Regions from separate parts of the Homo sapiens genome. Here region 2 is linked to region 1. Evidence: fine-mapped expression QTL. A gene starts in region 1. The other region holds a variant in brackets. All regions are shown on one strand. Distances are from middle to middle. Region 1 holds the start of PLEKHM2 (pleckstrin homology and RUN domain containing M2). Region 2 overlaps EFHD2 (EF-hand domain family member D2).

Region 1 (10,730 bases):
TCACATGACAAAAGCAAGAGGAAGTGAGAGAGAGTGGTGGGGAGGTGCCACATACTTTTACATGACTACATCTTGCAAGAATTCACTCACTGTTTTGAGGACAGCACCAAGAGGATGGTGCTCAACCATTCATGAGAACTCCACCCCCATGATCCAGTCACCTCCCATCAGGCCCCACCTCCAACACTGAGGATTCCTTTTATTTATTTATTTATTTTCTTTTTTTTGAGACAGGTCTTGCTCTGCACCCAGGCTGGAATGCAGTGGCGCGATCTCAGCTCACTGCAACCTCCGCCTCCTGGGTTCAAGTGGTTCTCCTGCCTCAGCCTCCGGTGTAGCTGGGATTAAAGCACGTGCACCACACCTGGCTAATTTTTGTATTGTTAGTAAAGATGGGGTTTCACCATGTTGGCCAGGCTGGTCTCGAACTCCTGACCTCAAGTGATCTGCTTGCCTTGGCCTCCCAAAGTGCTGGGATTATAGGAATGAGCCACCGTGCCTGGCCTAAGGATTACATTTTGACATGAGATTTGAAACAAATATCCAAACTGTATCATCAGGTGTAAAGAGAAGCAACCTTACATCTGTCCTTAGTTCTCTCTTTTTTATTTTTTGTCACCCAGGCTGGGGTCTTGAACTCCTGACCTCAGGCAATCCACCCACCTCGGCATCCCAAAGTGCTGGGATTACAAGCGTGAGCCACTGCACCCAGTGTCTTTTGTCCTTTAACTTCCATGGCCAGCTAAAAACTTTATCTGCATTTTAATTAAGTTAAAAATTAATCAGAAAAAAGAAATTAATCAGAAAATTAATCAGAAAAAAAGAAACTGTAGCATAGCCCTTTCTATGCTACAGCTCAAGGCAGCTGTTCTAGGTTGATGGACAGCTCTCTTCCATGCAGTGATTCAGGGAACTAGGGTGTCTATATTTTATATGTCTGACATCCCCTTGGCTTCATTGCACTGGTAGAAGAAGAAACAGCATGGAAGAGGAAATTTGCATAGAATCCCAGCCTAGGAATGGATCACATTTCTCTGTTCATGTTCTATTTGAGAGGATTTGATCATATAGCTGTGCGTGTCACAAAGGAGGCTGGGAAATGTAGTGCAGCACTCTGCCTGGCTACAACCCTATTACTGTGTAAAGAGAGAGAAGATTTTGTTTTTTTGTTGTTTGGCTTTTGTTTTGAGACAGGGTCTTGCTCTGTTGCCTAGGTTGGAGTGCAGTGGTGCAAACATGGCTCACTGCAGCCTCAACCTCCCATGTAGCTGGGATCACAGGAACACATCACCATGCCTGGCTAATTTTTGGATTTTTTGTAGAGATGGGGGGTCTCACTTTGTTGCCCAGGCTGGTCTTGAACTCCTGGGCTCAAGTGATCGTCCCACCTTGGGCTCCCAAAGTGCTGGGATTACAGGCGTGAGCCATCACACGCAGCCAGAGAGAGCAGATTTGGGTGAATAGCTAGAGGCCCTCGGATGCGAACAGACCAGCATGCTTGAGAAACTAAGGTTGGTGGGGCTGGCACACACCAGCGGAGAGTTAGGAGATGAGTCAGGGAGGGAGGCTGGATCAGATCAGCCTTGGAAGCCAGAGAAAAGAGTATGGACTGTATTCTAAATGCTATGACAGTAGGCAGAGGCTGCAGTCAGCTGAGAACACGCCACTGCGCTCCAGCCTGGGTGACAGAGCGAGACTCTGTCTCAGAAAACAACAGGCTGGGCGCGGTGACTCACACCTGTAATCCCAGCACTTTAGGAGGCTGAGGCAGGTGGATCATGAGGTCAAGAGCTCGAGACCAGCCTGGCCAAGATGGTGAAACCCCAACTCTACTAAAAATACAAAAATTAGCCAGGTGCAGTGGCAGGAATCTGTAATCCCAGCTACTTGGGAAACTGAGGCAGGAGACTCACTTGAACCCGGGGGGGGCGGAGGTTGCAGTGAGCCAAGATGGAGCCACTGCACTCCAGCCTGGGCGACAGAGTAAAACTCCATCTCAAAAAACAACAACAACAAAAAATAAGAATAGAATCATTTTTCCTGGGTCACTGATTTGGAAATTAAGGCAAAGTGACTTGCCTGAGGCCCTAGCATGAGTCAGTTGAGGCTTTTAATTCTTGTTGCCTTTTGACTCAGAGTCCCATGCACTTCTCATGAGATCAGAAAAGTCTTGTGCAATAAATGAATGAGCTTCAATTTCCAGCTTAAGTGACTCCCAATAACAAATAAGTATCTTGTGTTTTTCAGAGTCACCCTTTTTTTTTTGGTTTGCTTTTTGGGGTTTTTTAAGAGGTGAAGTCTTGCTCTGTCACCCAGGCTGGAGTGCAGCCACATGAGCTCAAGAGATCCTCCCTCTTCAGCCTCCAAAGCAGCTGAGGCTATAGACATGCACCACCATGCCCGGCTCGCCCTGTGTTTGACACGCAGAACGGATTCCATATTTGAACTCTGGACAAGGAGCAATTAGCTGCACATCAATGCACATTTGGCCTCTCCCTCTTTCCTGCAAGAAGTGTTGTTAGATAACAATGTCTGTTGTACCAGCTCACATACCTATGCAAACCTTAGGAATTTGGTAGACAGTGAGACCTTACATTCCTCTGAATGTTGTAAAATGCTGAATGTGACCATCTCCCAATACATGCAGATAAAAACAATATGGCAGAAATGCCACCACCTTCTTATGTCACAGACCAAGTGGACGCCCCAGGCATACAGCCAAGGAATAAAAATACCCACTGAGTGTACCATGTGCCCAAGCCATGATCAGCCATTCCTAGGGAGGAGGTGCCCAGCAGAACGCAGTGCTCAGCAGAAGATGGCCTGCTATTCAACAGCAGAGAAGAATCCCAAAGCTTGTTGGGTCAGTTTTGGGGGACTGCATTTTCATGAACCAGAGCTGCATCCAGCAGGTTGGGGCCTGTATGCACCCTAGCCAGGATGGAGTGGGAAGGAAGTGCGCAATTCTGACTCCACAAACACCTTTGGTAAGTAGGAGGCTATTTCTACTCATAGATACCTGGCTATTTATTTCCTCATTCAAAGTAATGTGTCCTCTGTCCTCAACCTTTTCTCTACCTATCCAGTGACTGGAGTCTCAACCCTCATCTGTTCTTATTCTGCTCTCTGAATATGAGAGGTAGATAACAACTCCAAAGAGGCTGTTATCTCTTGCTTTCCTGAACTCAGTACAAATAAGAAAACGCCCTGGGCTGGACATGATGGCTCATGCCCGTAATCCCAGCCCTTTGGGAGGCTGAGGTAAGAGGATGGCCTGAGCTCAGGAGTTCAAGACCAGCCTGGGTAACAGAGCGAGGCCCTGTCTCTACAAAAAATAAAATTCGCTGGGCGTATTTTATTCTGTACTCTCAGCTACTGGGGAGGCTGACGTGGGAGGATCCCCCAGGGAGTTCAAGCTACAGTGAGCTATGATCACACCCACCACTGCACTCCAGCCTGGGTGACAGAGTGAGACCCTGTCTTTAAAAAATAATTTAAGGCCAAGGCGGGCAGATCACCTGAGGTCAGGAGTTCAAGACCAGCCTGGCCAACATGGCGAAACCCCGTCTCTACTAAAAATACAAAAAAATTAGCTGGGCGTGGTGGCAGGCGCCCGTAATCCCAGCTACTGGGGAGGCTGAGACAGGAGAATCACTTGAACCTGGGAGGAGGAAGTTGCAGTGAGCTGAAATTGTGCCACCGCACTCCGGCCTGGGTGACAGAGCGAGACTCCGCCTCAAAAAAAAAAAAAAAAATTAGCTGGGCATGGTGTCACATGCACTTGTAGTCCCAGCTACTCGGGAGGCTGAGGCAGGAGAATCGCTTAAAGCTGGGAAGCGGAAGTTGCAGTGAGCAGAGATCGCACCACCGCATTCCAGCCTGGGGAACAGAGCAAGGCTCTGTCTCAAAAACAAACAAAACAAAACAAAACAAAAAAAACAAAAAACAAAGTACCACTATTTTGGGTCTCTCCTTGGGAAACTAAGGGGCTGGGGAGCGACCTTTGGAGGCTTGTGGGGTCCCTCTGAGATAAGCAATGAATCAGTATTTCAGATGCTAAGGGGACTTCAGGGATGGGGTGGCCTGAGCAGAGAAGAGGGAAGACCAGGGAACCAGAGTTGAGAACTGGGGTGTCTGAGAATAAAAAGGAGGGACTAATCTATGTGTCAGGATATATTTATTTGGGAACTTAAGGAGGGAAGAGAGCCAGGTAGGAGACTGACACCTCTAAGTGCAGGGGCTTTATGAGATGGTGGATTTGAGGAGGGTGTGTGGGAAGAGAGTTGTTACGGTGGGTTTCAGGGGCTGAGGGAGTTGAGGCCCTTGGGATACGTGGGGCTGAAGAAGAGGGATAAGGATAAGGAGTGGGAATGGGGCATTGGGGCTGAAGGTGAGGAGGGTGTGTTTTGGGGGTGGGGAGGAACACCAGGGACCTCAAATGTAGGACTGGGCCTTGAGGGTGAGGCACTGAGGAGGGGAGGCTGTGGAGGGCCAGGGGGCCCAGGGAGGGTCTAGGGCTGGGGACTGGAGTCTAGGCTGACCCGGTGGGGGTGCTGGGTCCTCCAGGCTGCGAAAGCCAGGGGGCCTGGGTCTGCACATTGAGGGGGTGGCTGGGCTAAGGAAGGGGAGGAAGATAAGTGGGGCTTGCAGGCTAAGAGGGTCTTGGGGTCCCTGGCCAGAGTTAGTGGGGTGCACTGGGGTCTCCAAGGAGGGGTCTGTGGACTAAAGAGGGCCGGCGGGAGGGGGCCCAGGGTCTGTGGGTGTCTCGAGTCTCTGAGGAGGGCCGGGGTCTCAGGGTCTGTGGGGGTCTCTGGCCTGTGGGGTCGGAGTCTCCAGAGTCCTTGGGGCCTGTGGGAGTCTCTGGGGTTTTGTGGGGGGATCCTGTGGGCTGAGGAGGGCTGTGGGGAGGGTCTCAGGGTCTCTGGGGAGGGCCAGTGCCTCGGGGTCTTTGGGGGTCTCTGAGGAGGGCTGGGGGCCCAGGGTCTGTGGGGGTCCCCAGCAGGTGGGGTTGGGGTCTCCGGAGTCCCTGGAGTCTGAGGGTGTCTCTGAGGTCCCAGGGGGGAGTCTATGGCCTGAGGGCTGAGGGGGAGGGTCTCCAGGGTCTCTGAGGAGGGCCGGTGTCCCGGGCAGGCGGGGTCGGGGTCTCCGGAGTTCCTGGGGTCTGAGGGTGTCTCTGGGGTCCCTGAGGGAATCTGTGGGCTGACGAGGCCTGGGGGAGGGTCTCCGAGGAGGGCCGGGGTCCCAGGGTCTGTGGGGGTCTCTGGCAGGCGGGGTCGGGGTGTCCGGAGTCCCTGGGGTCTGAGGGTGTCTCTGGGGTCCCTGAAGGAATCTGTGGGCTGAGGAGGGCTTGGGGAGGGTCTCTGAGGAGCCCCGAGGTCCCCGGCAGGCGGGGTCGAGGTCTCTGGCGTCCCTGGGGTCTGAGGGTGTCTCTGGGGTGCCGGGGAGAGTCTGTGACTTGAGGAGGGCTGGGGGCGGGTCTCGGGGTCTCTGGGGAGGGCCGCGGCCAAGGGTCTGTGCGGGTCTCCGGGTCCCCGGAGTCCCCAGGCGCAGGCGGGCCCTGGCGCCGCCCCGCCTGACATCAGTTCCTGCCGCCGCCGCCGCCGCGGCGCACAGCCCGCGGCCTCCTTCCCCGCCGGCCGCGCTCCGGAGCCTCCGGGCCGCGGTGGAGCGAGGGCCCAGGCGAGGCGAGGGCCGGGCGGCGGGCGCCGGGCCCCGCGGCCGGCACGACGGAGCCCCCGTACGGCCGGCGGCAGCGGTTGGCGGCGGCCCCCGGCCCCCGGCGCGGGAAGCGGCGGCGGGGCGGCGGCGGCGGTGGCGGTGGCGGTGGCGGCGACGGTGGCAGCGCCATGGAGCCGGGGGAGGTGAAGGACCGGATCCTGGAGAACATCTCGCTGTCGGTGAAGAAGGTGAGCGCGGCCTCCCTCCCGGCCGGGGCCCCTTCCTCGCCGCGCCCCCCACGCCCTCCGGCGGCGCTCTCCCGGGCCGGGGCCCCCCGCCCTTCCCCTCCGCGACCCGGGGGGCGACGAGCGGCCGGGAGCCCCGGGCCGGTAGAGGGGAAGCGGCGCCGCTCACGTGAGCGCCGCGGCCTCGGAGCTATTTTTAAAGAACAAAGTTGAGGTCAGCATCCTCGGAGCTTCCCCAAACCTGGCCCGGGGCCCTGCCCTCCCGGAGAGGGGTCAGCGACCCTCCGGTCCCCCACTGGGGCAGCGGCGCCCCCGGGAGCTCCTGAAGGAACCCCATGCAGCCTCCTGTGGAATCCGCTGCATCCCCGGGTCCCCCCGCCAGGCTGGCGTCGCCCAGGGTCTGGCAGTCAGGGTGGAGGCCAGTGATAAGCAACTTCACTTTCCCATGGCCTGGGTCCCGGCGACATTGCCTCTGCTCCTGGGAAGTCCCCTGAATAATCTTGCTCAAGGATGGTAGCTTTGAAGAGGTTCACTAGGGGCTTTGATTATAAGAACCTGAAGTACATGGGGATTGCATTTTGGATGCTGATCCGGGGAACCGGGTGACACCACAGACACCTTGCTGTGGGGCTTGCCGCAGTAAACATCACTGTCCCAATTCCAGGTAGAAATGAGTACATACCTGTCAAGGGCATGTATTTGTGATGAAGTTGGCATATCCGCAAAAGGGTCCGTGCTAGAAGGTAGAATCCATATTCTGACGTTTTTGGGCTGGATATAAAAATAATAATAATAAATTTAAAAGAATCCATATTCACTGAAAACCTAAATGGCCAAATCAGAATGGATTTTTCTCTCTCTCTCCCTCTCTGTGTGTGTGTTTGTGTAATTTGAATTCCTGGCTCACCAGATAGTCTCAGAAACTGAAAAAAAAAAAAAAAAAAAGAAAGAAAGAAAGAAAAAAGAGAAAGAAAATGGCTTGGGTGAGGGACTCAGCAGCTTATTTTACTTGAAGAAGCAAAATGGATAGAATTAATTAGATCAACCATCATATTTAAATAATTGTCTGTTTTCCCACTGAGATTCCTCAAAAGCAACACAGGCAAGCTATTTTACCTTTCATAAAGATAAATGTGACTTAAAAAGAAAATAGATTCTCGAATTGCCCTTACTGAAAACATTCCTCTAAAAGCACAGCTAAAGTAACATTGCAGAGATCCAACAAGAGTTTTACGTAGTTTTACTGAGCTTTGCTAATGTAATGGGGTATGGTTTTTGCTTACTCAAGGAGGGCAGGATGAGCAAATACTTTGTTGAGAAGCAGTACATCTTTCCTAATGGAAGAGAAAGGAACACAGGTGACCTTTCTAATCTAATCTGGGCTGATTGTGGCTTTAGGTAGGCCCGGCGTTTGTCTTTGGATTTCAAACAAATGAATGGAGAAAGTCTGTGATGGAGAGGCAGTAGACATGGGGCACGCTGTCACATGTATAAGCATGAGTCTTTTGAAGGCAGAGATTCACTTTGTAAGTCAGGCTGTCACTTATGAGTTAGGTGTGTTTGTTGAGGTGCATATAATTGTAGGTGTTTGGACAAGGACACTTATTGAGCTGGAATGCACCCCAGAAAATGTCACACTAGAAACTGCAAACCCATCCCTGGGTGTATCACAACCAAAGCCATGGGCAGCATCATTGTTAGGAGCATGGATTCTGGAGTCCAGCTGCCTGATTGAATCCCCGCCCTGCCAAATTAATAACCCTGTAACCTTGGTCAGGCTTATTAACCTCTCCATGCCCAGTTTCTTCATCTGTAAAGCAGGGATAAAATTAGGGATGTTGTGGAGTGTTTTTTTGTTGTTGTTGTTGTTGTTGTTTGTTTTTGAGACAGAGTCTTGCTCTGTTGCCTGGGCTGGAGGGCAGTGGTGTGATCTCGGCTCACTACAACCTCCACCTCCCAGGTTCAAGCGATTCTTCTGCCTCGGCCTCTCGAGTAGCTGGGATTACAGGTGTGCGCCACCACACCCGGCTAAATTTTTTTTTTTTTTTTTTGAGACGGAGTCTCGCTCTGTCGCCCAGGTTAGAATGCAGTGGCCTGATCTCCGCTCAGTGCAAGCTCCGCCTCATGGGTTCACACCATTCTCCTGCCTCAGCCTCCCAAGTAGCTGGGACTATAAGCGCCGGCCACCACGCCCGGCTAATTTTTTTGTATTTTTAGTAGAGACGGGGTTTCACCATGTTAACCAGGGATGGTCTCGATCTCCTCACCTTGTGATCTGCCCGCTTCGGCCTCCCAAAGTGCTGGGATTACAGGCGTGAGCCACGGCGCCCAGCGTCTAATTTTTGTATTTTTAGTGGAGATGGGGTTTCCCCATGTTGGCCAGGCTGGTCTTGAACTCCTGACCTCAAGTGATCTGCCTGCCTTGGCCCCCCGAAGTGCTGGGATTACAGGCATGAGCCACCGTGCCCGACTACTTTTTGTATTTTTTGTAGAGATGGGATTTCGCCCATATTGGTCAGGCTGTGTTATGAAGATTTTGTTTGTTTGTTTTTTGTTTTTTGTTTTTTTTGAGATGGAGTCTTGCTCTGTCACCCAGGCTGGAGTGCAGTGGCGTGATCTCAGCTCGCTGCAAGCTCCGTCTCTCAGGTTCACGCCATTCTCCTGCCTCAGCCTCCCGAGTAGCTGGGACTACAGGTTACAGGCGCCCGCCACTATGCCCGGCTAATTTTTTTGTATTTTTAGTAGAGACGGGGTTTCACCGTGTTAGCCAGGATGGTCTCGATCTCCTGACCTCATGATCCGCTCACCTCGGCCTCCCAAAGTGCTGGGATTACAGGCATGGTGAAGTTTTAATAAACATGTAGAGTGTTTAGCATGGATCCTGGCCCAGTCTTAACTGGTAGCTTTTTTCTTTGTGCAAGAGCCCATTCCTCAATTTTACAAGGTTTGAAGATGGCTCAACTGCCTCACCACCTAAAGGTCGTTCTACAACACCATTTGTTCTTGGTAGCCACTTCCTTTGTGTGTTTGTTTGAGACAACTGCGATGTGATTCTTGCATCATAAATTACATTTGGTTTTCTGAATCAGAGTGTCTGCTTTACTAGGAACCTGTTAGTTTGGCTACAGCAGTAGACATTGAGGACAGCAGTCTTGGGGTCAGATTTGTCCTTGAATGCCAGTCTCACCTAAATGTGTTATATAGCACCTTGAGAGTTGCTTTGCCTTTTTTCTTGCATCCTACCACCAGTAAATGGTCTTACTGGTCATTTTATAAGGATTTTACGTGAAGAAAATGAGATGCATATTTCTGCAAGGAAAGATCCATTGTGTATTTCTATATTTGCAAAGAGTACTTTAGAACTTTTTATGAAAATGAAGCATGCCTACAGGAAAGTGTACAGGTCCTGAGCGGACAGCTTAATGAGTTCTCACAAAGTGAAAACACCTGCATATCCAGCACCCTGACCAAGAAACAGAACATGACCATTATCCCAGAGGGCCCCTCGTTCCCCTCCCAGAAACTACACCCTCAAAGCAACCACTATCCCCAAGGAGTATTGTTGAGTTCAACTATTTTCACACTTAGATTTTGTGATGGTGAATACCCATTATAACACCAGACAGGTGAAACAGCTGTTAATCCATCTGAATCCAAGGCAACCTGTGTTCTGATATGGACACAGAATTCCTGAGGGTGAGAGAGAACTGGAGAGTTTAATAATTAACATGATTAAATGAAAATGATAACAATAGGCCAGGCATGGTGGCTCACGCCTGTAATCCCAGCACTTTGGGAGGCCAAGGTGGATGGATAACTTGAGGCCAGAAGTTCAAGACCAGCCTTGCCAACATGGTGAAACCCCATCTCTACCAAAAATACAGAAATTAGCTGGGTGTGGTGGCGCGTGCCTGTAGTCCCAGCTACTTGGGAGGCTGAGGCAGGGAAGCACTTGACCTGGGAGGTGGAGGTTGCAGTGAACTGAGATCGCGCCATTGCACTCCAGCGTGGGTGACAGAGGGAGACTCTGTCTCAAAAAAAAAAAAAAAAAAGGAAATGATAACAATAGCAAATTCAATTCATATTCAATTCTAGAAAGGGAGCTAGTAGCAGAAACATCCCAGATGCTGCCAGTAAAGCCTGTGGTTGCCGATTTGTTAAAGAGAAATGTCCAAGTCAACGACAGCTTTGGCATTTTTGAATCAGCATGTGGTTCTACTAAATAACATCTTCTCCAGGGGAGGGAAGGCAGGCAGTGATTTTCCCAAGTTCTGTTTTTGAGGAGCTGGTGTGTCTGCTGCATATGCCTGCAGAATGAGCAAAGACTATATGCCATAAGAAGCAACCTCCTGGCCAGGCGCGGTGGCTCATGCCTGTAACCCCAACACTTTGGGAGGCCGAGGCGGGCGGATCACCTGAGGTCAGGAGATCGAGACCGGCCTGACCAACATCGAGAAACCCCATCTCTATTAAAAATACAAAATTAGCTAGGTGTGGTGGTGCATACCTGTAATCCCAGCTACTCGGGAGGCTGAGGCAGGAGAATCGCTTAAACTCGGGAGGCGGAGGTTGTGGTGAGTTGTGGCACCATTGCACTCCAGCCTGGGCAAAAAGAGCGAAACTCCGTCTCAAAAAAAAAAAAAAAAGAAAGAAAGAAATACTGGTAGAGTTCAGAGAAAGAGAAGAAGCAGGCATTCAAGACAGAAGAAACAGCCTAGGCATCCCCAAGGAAGTGGGGCCTTCCAGATGGTCTTCCGAGGACAGGCGTGACCTGTCTTAAGAGGGACCTGTCTTAAGATTGCCAAGGGTTCTGCAAGATGCGGCTGG
Region 2 (8,000 bases), 260 kb before region 1:
CAGGGAGTCCTGAGCCACAGACACTTCAAACCAGATGCTTTGCCTCCCGTTCAGTCCTTTCTTATCCTGCAACATTATCCTCGCCCATTTCACAGTTAAGGAGGCTGGACTTTCAGAAGGGTTATGTGACTTGTCCAAAGTCACATAGCCAGTGAGGGGCAGAATAGGATTTGAACCTGGGCCTCCCCGGCTCCAAGTCCTCTGAACCCTTACAGTGGCCCAAACACCAGCAGCTTCACCGCCCGGGAGTATGTTAGAAATGCAGATGCTCAGATTCCACCCCAGATTTACCAGACTGTAATCTGCAATTTTTTTTTTTAAGAGACAGAGTCTTGCTCTGTCACTCAGACCAAGTGCAGTGGTACGATCATAGCTCACTGCAGCCTCAACTTCCTGGGCTTAAGTGATCCTCCCACCTCAGCCTCCTGAGTAGCTGGGACTACAGGCACATGCCACCACATCCAGCTAATTTTTTTTTATTTTTGTAGAGATGGGGTCTCATTATGTTGCTCAGACTGGTCTCAAACTCCTGGCCCCAAGCCACCCTCCCACCTCATCCTCCCAAAGTGCAGGGATTACAGGCATGAGCCACCACGCCCAGCCCATAATCCGCACTGTAACCAGCTTCACCAGGTGTGCACACTGACGTTTAAGAAGCGCTAAGCCTCGGCTCAGGCCCCCGCACAGCCGTCTCCCCACCACTTCCTGAGGTTGACCTAAGGTTATCCTTAGGTGGGTGACTTTGTCTGAGCTGTAAGAGGATAAGATGTATGGAGTAAAGATTAAGTTACGTTATAAACACTGGGTTATGTTAATATTAGGCATTCAATAAATATTCTTTATAATCACTATCATAACAATAATGACTATGAAGAGCAAGAAGCGAAAGGGGGTGGCTGGCAGGGAGTGCCGTGGGTGCGGTGTGAGGTTGTTGAACTCCAGGTTAGGATGCCTTTGAGCCCTGACAGCCCCCCAGCAAATTGCTTGGGGTCTCCCTCTTTATCCTCCGTGGGGGAGCCCCAAGCGCCACACTTATGTGCTCTCTATCTCTCCGTCTCTCTCTCTCTCTCTTTCTCCCCCAACCCCATACCCCACTTAGCTGAACTAGGGCAAGAGATCAAGTGTGAGATTCCCAGATAGGACTAGAGGAAGTGGTGAGCGCTGGGCTTTCCCTATATGAGTCAGGCAGTCTGGGGGTGGGGACATGCAGGAACTGGGGAAGCCAGGGGGGCCTGAGGGCTCCTGAGCCCATACCCAACACCCACCCTGTCCAATTGTCTGTTCTCCTGGGACCTGCACGCCCAGAGCGGCCATCAGTAAAGCCTGGGATGGGAGTCAGGAGAGACAGAATTGGGGTCCCTGTGCTCCCACCTTCCCGTGTGCAGTTTTTGCAATGACTCTGCTTCCTTCTGCCATCAGACTGTGCAGTGCAGCTTGGGGGCACCTGCACGAGGAGCAACTTTCTTTCTTTTTCTTTTTTTTTTTTTTTTTTTTTTTTTTGAGACAGAGTCTTGCTCTGTCACCCAGGCTGGAGTGCAGTGGCACAATCTTGGCTCACTGCAGCCTCCGCCTCCCGGGTTCAAACAATTCTTCTGCCTCAGCCTCCCTAGTAGCTGGGATTACAGGCATGCACCACCACACCCAGTTAATTTTTGTATTCTTAGTAGAGACAGGGTTTCACCATGTTGGCCAAGCTGGTCTCAAACTCCTGGCCTCAAGTGATCTGCCCGCCTCGGCCTCCCAAAGTGCTGAGATTACAGGCGTGAGCCACTGCACCTGGTCGAGGAGCAACTTTTTTTTTTTTTTTTTTTTTTTTGAGATGGAGTCTCGCTCTGTCACCCAGGCTGGAGTGCAGTGGCGCGATCTCGGCTCACTGCAAGCTCCGCCTCCTGGGTTCACGCCATTCTCCTGCCTCAGCCTCCCGAGTAGCTGGGACTACAGGCGCCCACCATCACGCCCGGCTAATTTTTTGTATTTTTAGTAGAGACGGGGTTTCACCGTGTTAGCCAGGATGGTCTCAATCTCCTGACCTTGTGATCCGCCCGCCTTGGCCTCCCAAAGTGCTGGGATTACAGGCGGGAGCCACGGCACCCGGCCGCAACTTTCTAATAGTTCCAAAGCCAAGATAGGCCCCCCCTTAAGTAAGCAATGAGCTTCCTGTCCTCAGAGGTATTCAAGGCACTAAACAACGAACTGCATCAGGAATCTGATTTTCAGGAACGACTGAATAAGATGGCCTCTAATATCCCTCCCAACCCCGAAGTTCTCTGCTGTGTCCTGATAGGCATCAGGGCATAGCATAGTCGTTAAGAGTGCATGTGTTTGATCAGGCCTGGTTCAGAGCCCAGCGACACCCTTGTCACCTATGACCTGGGCTAAGTCGCTTCCCCTCTGAGCCTCAGTCTCCTTGTCGGTTCATGTTCATGCCGCTTCATAGGCTTCTTGTGAGAATCTGATGCAAAACACCTGGCATCGTGCCTGGCACATAGCAAGTGCTCAGCAGAGTAGCCAGGAATGATGATAGATTATGACGTGGGGCTCACCTGGGTGCAAGGCTGGGACATCTGCACTGTGCATGGTTGACGCCTCCACTGCCTACCCCTGTGACTCCCTAGTTATCAGAACTGGGGAGAGGGGCAGGGGCAGGGAAGCAACCAGCTGGGGACCATGCTCACCCCAAAGGGAAAGGGTCGTCCTTGGGGGGTAACTGGCTGCTCCGCTTTCGAGAGGGGGATGGATGGGGATTTTGTCCCCAGCATCCAGGGTGCAGCTAGCTGCTGAGCCCTCCCTGACGAGAACTATTCAAGGGGAGGCAGATAGGAATGCGGGCACGGTGCCAGGCCCCGCAGCCTCCCTCCGGTGCTGGAGAAAAGTGCTGAGCTCCCAGGCTGGGCGCTTTCTGCCAGTACTGCCGAATGGCATTGGCCTTCCCAAACAGGCACCAAGCTGGGCTCTCAGTCCAGCCTCCACTGGCCCTGCAAGCTTGAGAATGTGGGACCCTCCATGGGACCAGGAAAAAGAGAGGGGCCAGGGAGGAGAAAAACTTCCAGCTGTTGGAATCCTGCAGTCTGCTGGCTGTGTGACCCTGGGCCAGTCACTGCCCACTGTGGGCCCCAGTTTCCCTACATAATGTAAAACGGGTAGACCAGGCTATCTGGGTGGATCTTGCGGGCTGATCTCTCTTTTTCTGGATCCTCTAAGCCAGCTGCAACCTCAGTTCCAGCTCAGGGAGAAGGGCTGGTGGGTGAGAGGCCCTCTAGCCCAGGAGATGCCTGTTTCCAGCCATCGTGGAACCTCGTTCTCTCCTGTGCTGCCAGTTGTCCCACACACACATTGGCACCATGAGAGTAGCCCCTTCCTCACTTTTCTCCAACCCCGAGGGAAGGTTCCTCGCTCCCTGAGGCTCCTCTCTCCCTGTTCAAGGGCTCTGTCCAGCGGTCTTCTGTCTTCCTACCTCCCAGAGATGCTGGGGCTTTGCGTCGGGCCTAGTAGGGGAAAAGTGGGCCTTTAGAGGAGAGGTCATGCTGGAGGGATCCCCTGGGTCATCATGTCCACCCCTGCCTCCAGGCCAAGCCACCACAAGCCCTGCCTCCCAACCCTGTACCACCAGTCAGGACTGGAGCCTGTGGCAGAAGCCAGTGTGTTTTTTATCATTATTTCTAATATCATCACC[C/A]TTTTTATATTGTATATGTGAAGTATATGATGTGCATATGTGACACACACAAACTTCTCAATATAACAACTACTATTACGATGATGATGAAATTAACAGGTTTGAAGGACTCACTATGTGCCAGGCATTTTATATCTGTCAGCTCATTTTCATTTTCTTTTTTGTGTTTGTTTGTCTTTTAAACAAGGTCTCACTCTGTTGCCCAGGCTGAAGAGCAGTGGCTCGATCAGGGCTCACTGCAGCCTCAACCTCCCGGGCTAAAGTGATCCTCCCACCACAGCCTCCCTAGTAGCTGGGACCAGAGGCATACACCACCACGCCCAGCTAATTATTTATTTATTTATTTATTTATTTTTTGAGACAGTGTCTCACTTTGTCACCCAGGCTGGAGTGCAGTGGCATGATCTCAGCTCACTGCAACCTCCATCTCCTGGGTTCAAGCAATTCTCCTGACTCAGCTTCCTGAGTAGCTGGAATTACAGGTGCGTGCCACCATGCCTGGCTAATTTCTACACTTTTAGTAGAGACGGAGTTTTACCATGTTGGTCAGGCTGGTCTCGAACTCCTGACCTCGTGATCCGCCTGCCTCAGCCTCCCAAAATGCTGGGATTACAGGCATGAGCCACCGCACCTGGCCCTTTATTTTTTTATAGAGATGTGGTCTCCCTATCTTGCCCAAGCTGGTCTGAAACTCCTGGGCTCAAGTGATCCTCAGCCTCCCAAAGTGCTGGCATTATAGACATGAGCCACCACGTCCAGCCTCATTTACTCTTTAATAATCTTAAAGGTAGATGTTAGGAATAATAATAACTGGTTTTTAGTATCATAGTAGGCATGTATGAAGTGCTTCCTGTGGACCAGGCTCTGTGCCAAGAGTCTGCTTGTATCGTCTCTTTTAATCCTTGCCTCCATCCTGAGATGAGTTCTTTGATCTCCATGATGTAGATGAGGAAATTGAGGTCTGTGGGGTTAGGTGACTTGACCAGGTCACTCTGCCAGCAGGTGGCAGAGCTGGGGTTTGGACCCAGGTCAGTCTCAGCGGAGTTGATGTAACCACAAACCCTCAAGGCCATCTTCAATCAGGTTGACCCTGGAACCTGGCTGATCCCCTGCACTAGACCACATCAGAGCCCAGGGCACAGGGCAGATGGCCACTCTCCAGGAGTCTCTTGGGAATGGCCTCCTCCACGGCTACCTCTGGGGGCTTCACCGCCCACCCCAGCACCTGGCCTCTCGCAGCCCCCGTCACCTCCTCTTGGTGATGGACTCTTTGGCACCGCAGCCAGCCCCTGTATTGTCCCCCTGGGGGCCAGAGCCTGCCCTGGATGGAGCCCAGCCCCAGTAATTGATTGGCCTTTGATTGATAGAGGCGGCCGTTCAAATCATGGTTTGAGCCACAGCCCAGCCAGGCCTGGGAGCTGCCAAAGACAGAGGGATCCACAGCCCACGTTTCCATCCAAGTTTGGACACTTTATCTGCACTTCCTCTGAAACTGAGCTGCCCCTGGCTGCAGAAGAAACCCATGCACTTGAGCAATAAATAAAGCTGGGGCTCAGGGAGAGACACGTGGGACCCAGGGGCTGGGGCGTGAACCCCTGACCTGCTGGTTATGGGACCTGTGGCCTCACCAACAGCCCTCCTGACCTAATCCGGACCTGGAGGATTGCTGAGCACAGGGATTGTAAAGAGAAAGTGCTGGTGCGTTGGGAGTTTAGTGACGGTGATTCAATCTTGTTTTAGCGGTGGTGACTGCCATTTATGCAGCTAGCTCTGTGCGCTGGGAGCTGTGCTGAGTGCTTGACAGGGATGGGCTCAGTCGTTCCTCACAGTGGCCCATGAGAGAGGCCCCATTGCAGCAGGGTTCTCAGCCTCAGCTCCACTGGCACTTGGGGCCAGGTCATTCCATTTTTTTTTTTTTTTTTTTTTTTTTGAGACAGAGTCTTGCTTTGTCGCCCAGGCTGGAGTGCAGTGGTGCCATCTCAGCTCATTGCAACCTCCACCTCCTGTGTTTAAGTGATTCTCCTGCCTCAGCCTCCCAAGTAGCAGGGATTACAGGTGCCTGCCACCATGCCCAGCTAATTTGTGTATTTTTAATAGAGACAGGGTTTCACCATGTTGGCCAGGATGGTCTTGATCTCCTGACCTCATGATCTGCCTGCCTCAGCCTCCCAAAGCGCTGGGATTATAGGCGTGAGCCACCGTGCCCAGCTGGCCAGGTCATTCTTTGCGGTGGGGCCACCCTATGCGCTATAGGAGCTTCCCTGGCCTCCACCCACCAGATGCCACTGGCATCCCCCCCACCTCCGCCGCCCCAGGTATGACAACCAAAAACACCTCTAGACATTGCCAGATGTCTCCTGGGGGGCACATGCACCCCAGCTTAAGAGATGCTGCATTTTGGCCAGGTGCGGTGGCTCACACCTGTAATCTCAGCACTTTGGGAGGCCGAGGCGGACGGATCATGAGGTCAGGAGATCGAAACCATCCTGGCTAACACGGTGAAACCCCATCTCTACTAAAAATACAAAAAATTAGCCGAGCGTGGTGGCGGGCACCTGTAGTCGCAGCTACTCAGGAGGCTGAGGCAGGAGAATGGAGTGAACCCAGGAGGCAGAGCTTGCAGTGAGCCAAGATTGCGCCACTGCACTCCAGCCTGGGCGACAGAGCGAGACTCCGTCTCAAAAAAATAAAAATAAAAAGAGATGCTGCATTTTGTGGCTGAGGAGCCCAGGCAATTTGGCTTCAGAGCCTGACTGTCATCGCTGACCTTGGGAGCCCAGGGTCAGAAAGCGGCAGGGCTTTGCTTTCCTGGGGGGCACTGAGGAGGGGAGTCCTCGTGACTTGGCTCAGGAAAGACTGAGTCCCTCACCAGGTGCTCCTGCACAGCCCCACGGTCATGTGGCGCCCGCCCAGCCCTCTACCAGGCAGCAAACAGGGACCAGAGATGGCAGGAGGCGCCTCCGCTGTGCCCCCCAGAACCCCTCCAGCTCCAGGTGGAGGCTGGACCACAGCAGCTTTGGCCTGCCTGACCCTCTGAGTCCCACACCTTCTACTGTCACAGAGGTGGCCACTGCCCACAGGGGCTGCTGGCCCATCCACCTCCACCCCAACCCTCATCCATCAGTGGGGCAGAAGCCGCAGGACCCTGTGTTCCCTCCAGGGCTCCCAAGACCCATCTTTGCTGTGTCACTTTCAACCACTGACTCACTGGCTCGTGAACTATTTATACCCCTCGCACAAATGCTCCCCTTGTGCTCCAGGCAGCCGTCTGTGTTCTGCAGCAGCCCCAGGACACGTTGGGGAGGGGCTGGGTACAGAGCAAATGTGCAAGTTTATGAGCCCAGCAGATCAAGTCTGGAAGCCCAGCTCCTTCCTTACTGCTGTGTGACTGTGGGTGGGTCACTTAACCTCTCTGAGCCTTGGTCATAAAATAAGGTTATTAGGAAAATTAAGTAAAGTAAGCAGTTCCCAGCATAAAGACAGATCTCAGTACATGGTTGCTATTAGGTGTTCAAAGTACACCTAACTAGAGAAGGCGAAAGGAGCTGGGGAGCCCGTAAGAAGGTGCAGAAATGAGACATATTCATGCAGAAGCTCAAGCGCCCGGGACATAGGGTTCTGGAACACATCCACCTGTGTTGCGCTGCTGTCACCAGCACTGTCACCCAGCCAGTTCAAGGCCTGGGGGACTGCACAAGCCTTCTTTAGGTGCAGAAAAACCCATTTTGGCTGGGCAAAGTGGTGCACGCCTGTAATTCCAGCACTCTGGGAGGCTGATGTAGGAGGATTGCTTGAGCCCAGGAGTTTGAGACCAGCCTGGGCAACATATTGACACCCCGTCTCTACAAAAAAAATACAAAACTTGGCCAGTCATGGTGGCATGCACCTGCAGTCCCAGCTACTTGGGAGGCTGAGGCGGGAGGATCGCTTGAGCCCAGGAGGTAGAGGCTGCAGTAAGCTGTGATCGCGCCTGGGTAACAGAGCAACACCCCGTCTCAAAAAGAAAAAAAAAAAAAAGAAAAACCCATGTTACCAACTCTGGGATCACTCTCCCCAGCCCCCATCTTGTCTTCCTCCTACGCTGTTCCCAGAGACCAGTAGGGCAGGTGTTTGGTTGATAAGAGAGCCCAGCTGGGCAAACAGCGCCTCGCCCTCTTTCACCAGGCTGTGTGCTCCAGGAACCAGTGGTGCCTTCCCAGCCAGGCAACAGGCAGAAAGGCCACCTAGACTCTTACTACACAGAAGCCAGTCAAGAGGGACTTGCCCCCAACCCCACCCCTGTCTCTGCCAGGTTGTTAGTGGTAGAAAAAAAGAGAACCTGAGAGTG

Evidence for each region. PIP is the estimated chance that this variant, and not a neighbour inherited with it, causes the effect.
Region 2: its variant is the best candidate, but not a certain one, in a credible set for the expression of PLEKHM2 in whole blood (TOPMed, PIP 0.88).

What each region holds. Positions count from the first base shown.
Region 1 is chr1:15,678,713-15,689,442 of GRCh38, forward strand. PLEKHM2 (pleckstrin homology and RUN domain containing M2) reads left to right here and starts at 5,608. Exons shown (of 20, transcript NM_015164.4): 1 at 5,608-5,906. The coding sequence starts at 5,847. RefSeq lists silencers at 1-469, 5,462-5,541, 5,632-5,711, 6,232-6,301 and enhancers at 1,172-1,672, 6,532-6,591.
Region 2 is chr1:15,416,508-15,424,507 of GRCh38, forward strand. The region is part of intron 1 of EFHD2 (EF-hand domain family member D2); the gene reads left to right. Among named protein-coding and RNA genes, the nearest start is that of EFHD2-AS1, 8.1 kb to the left of the region's middle. RefSeq lists enhancers at 1-299, 48-137 and silencers at 506-800, 1,688-1,807. The variant C/A (reference allele first, on the strand shown) is at 3,674.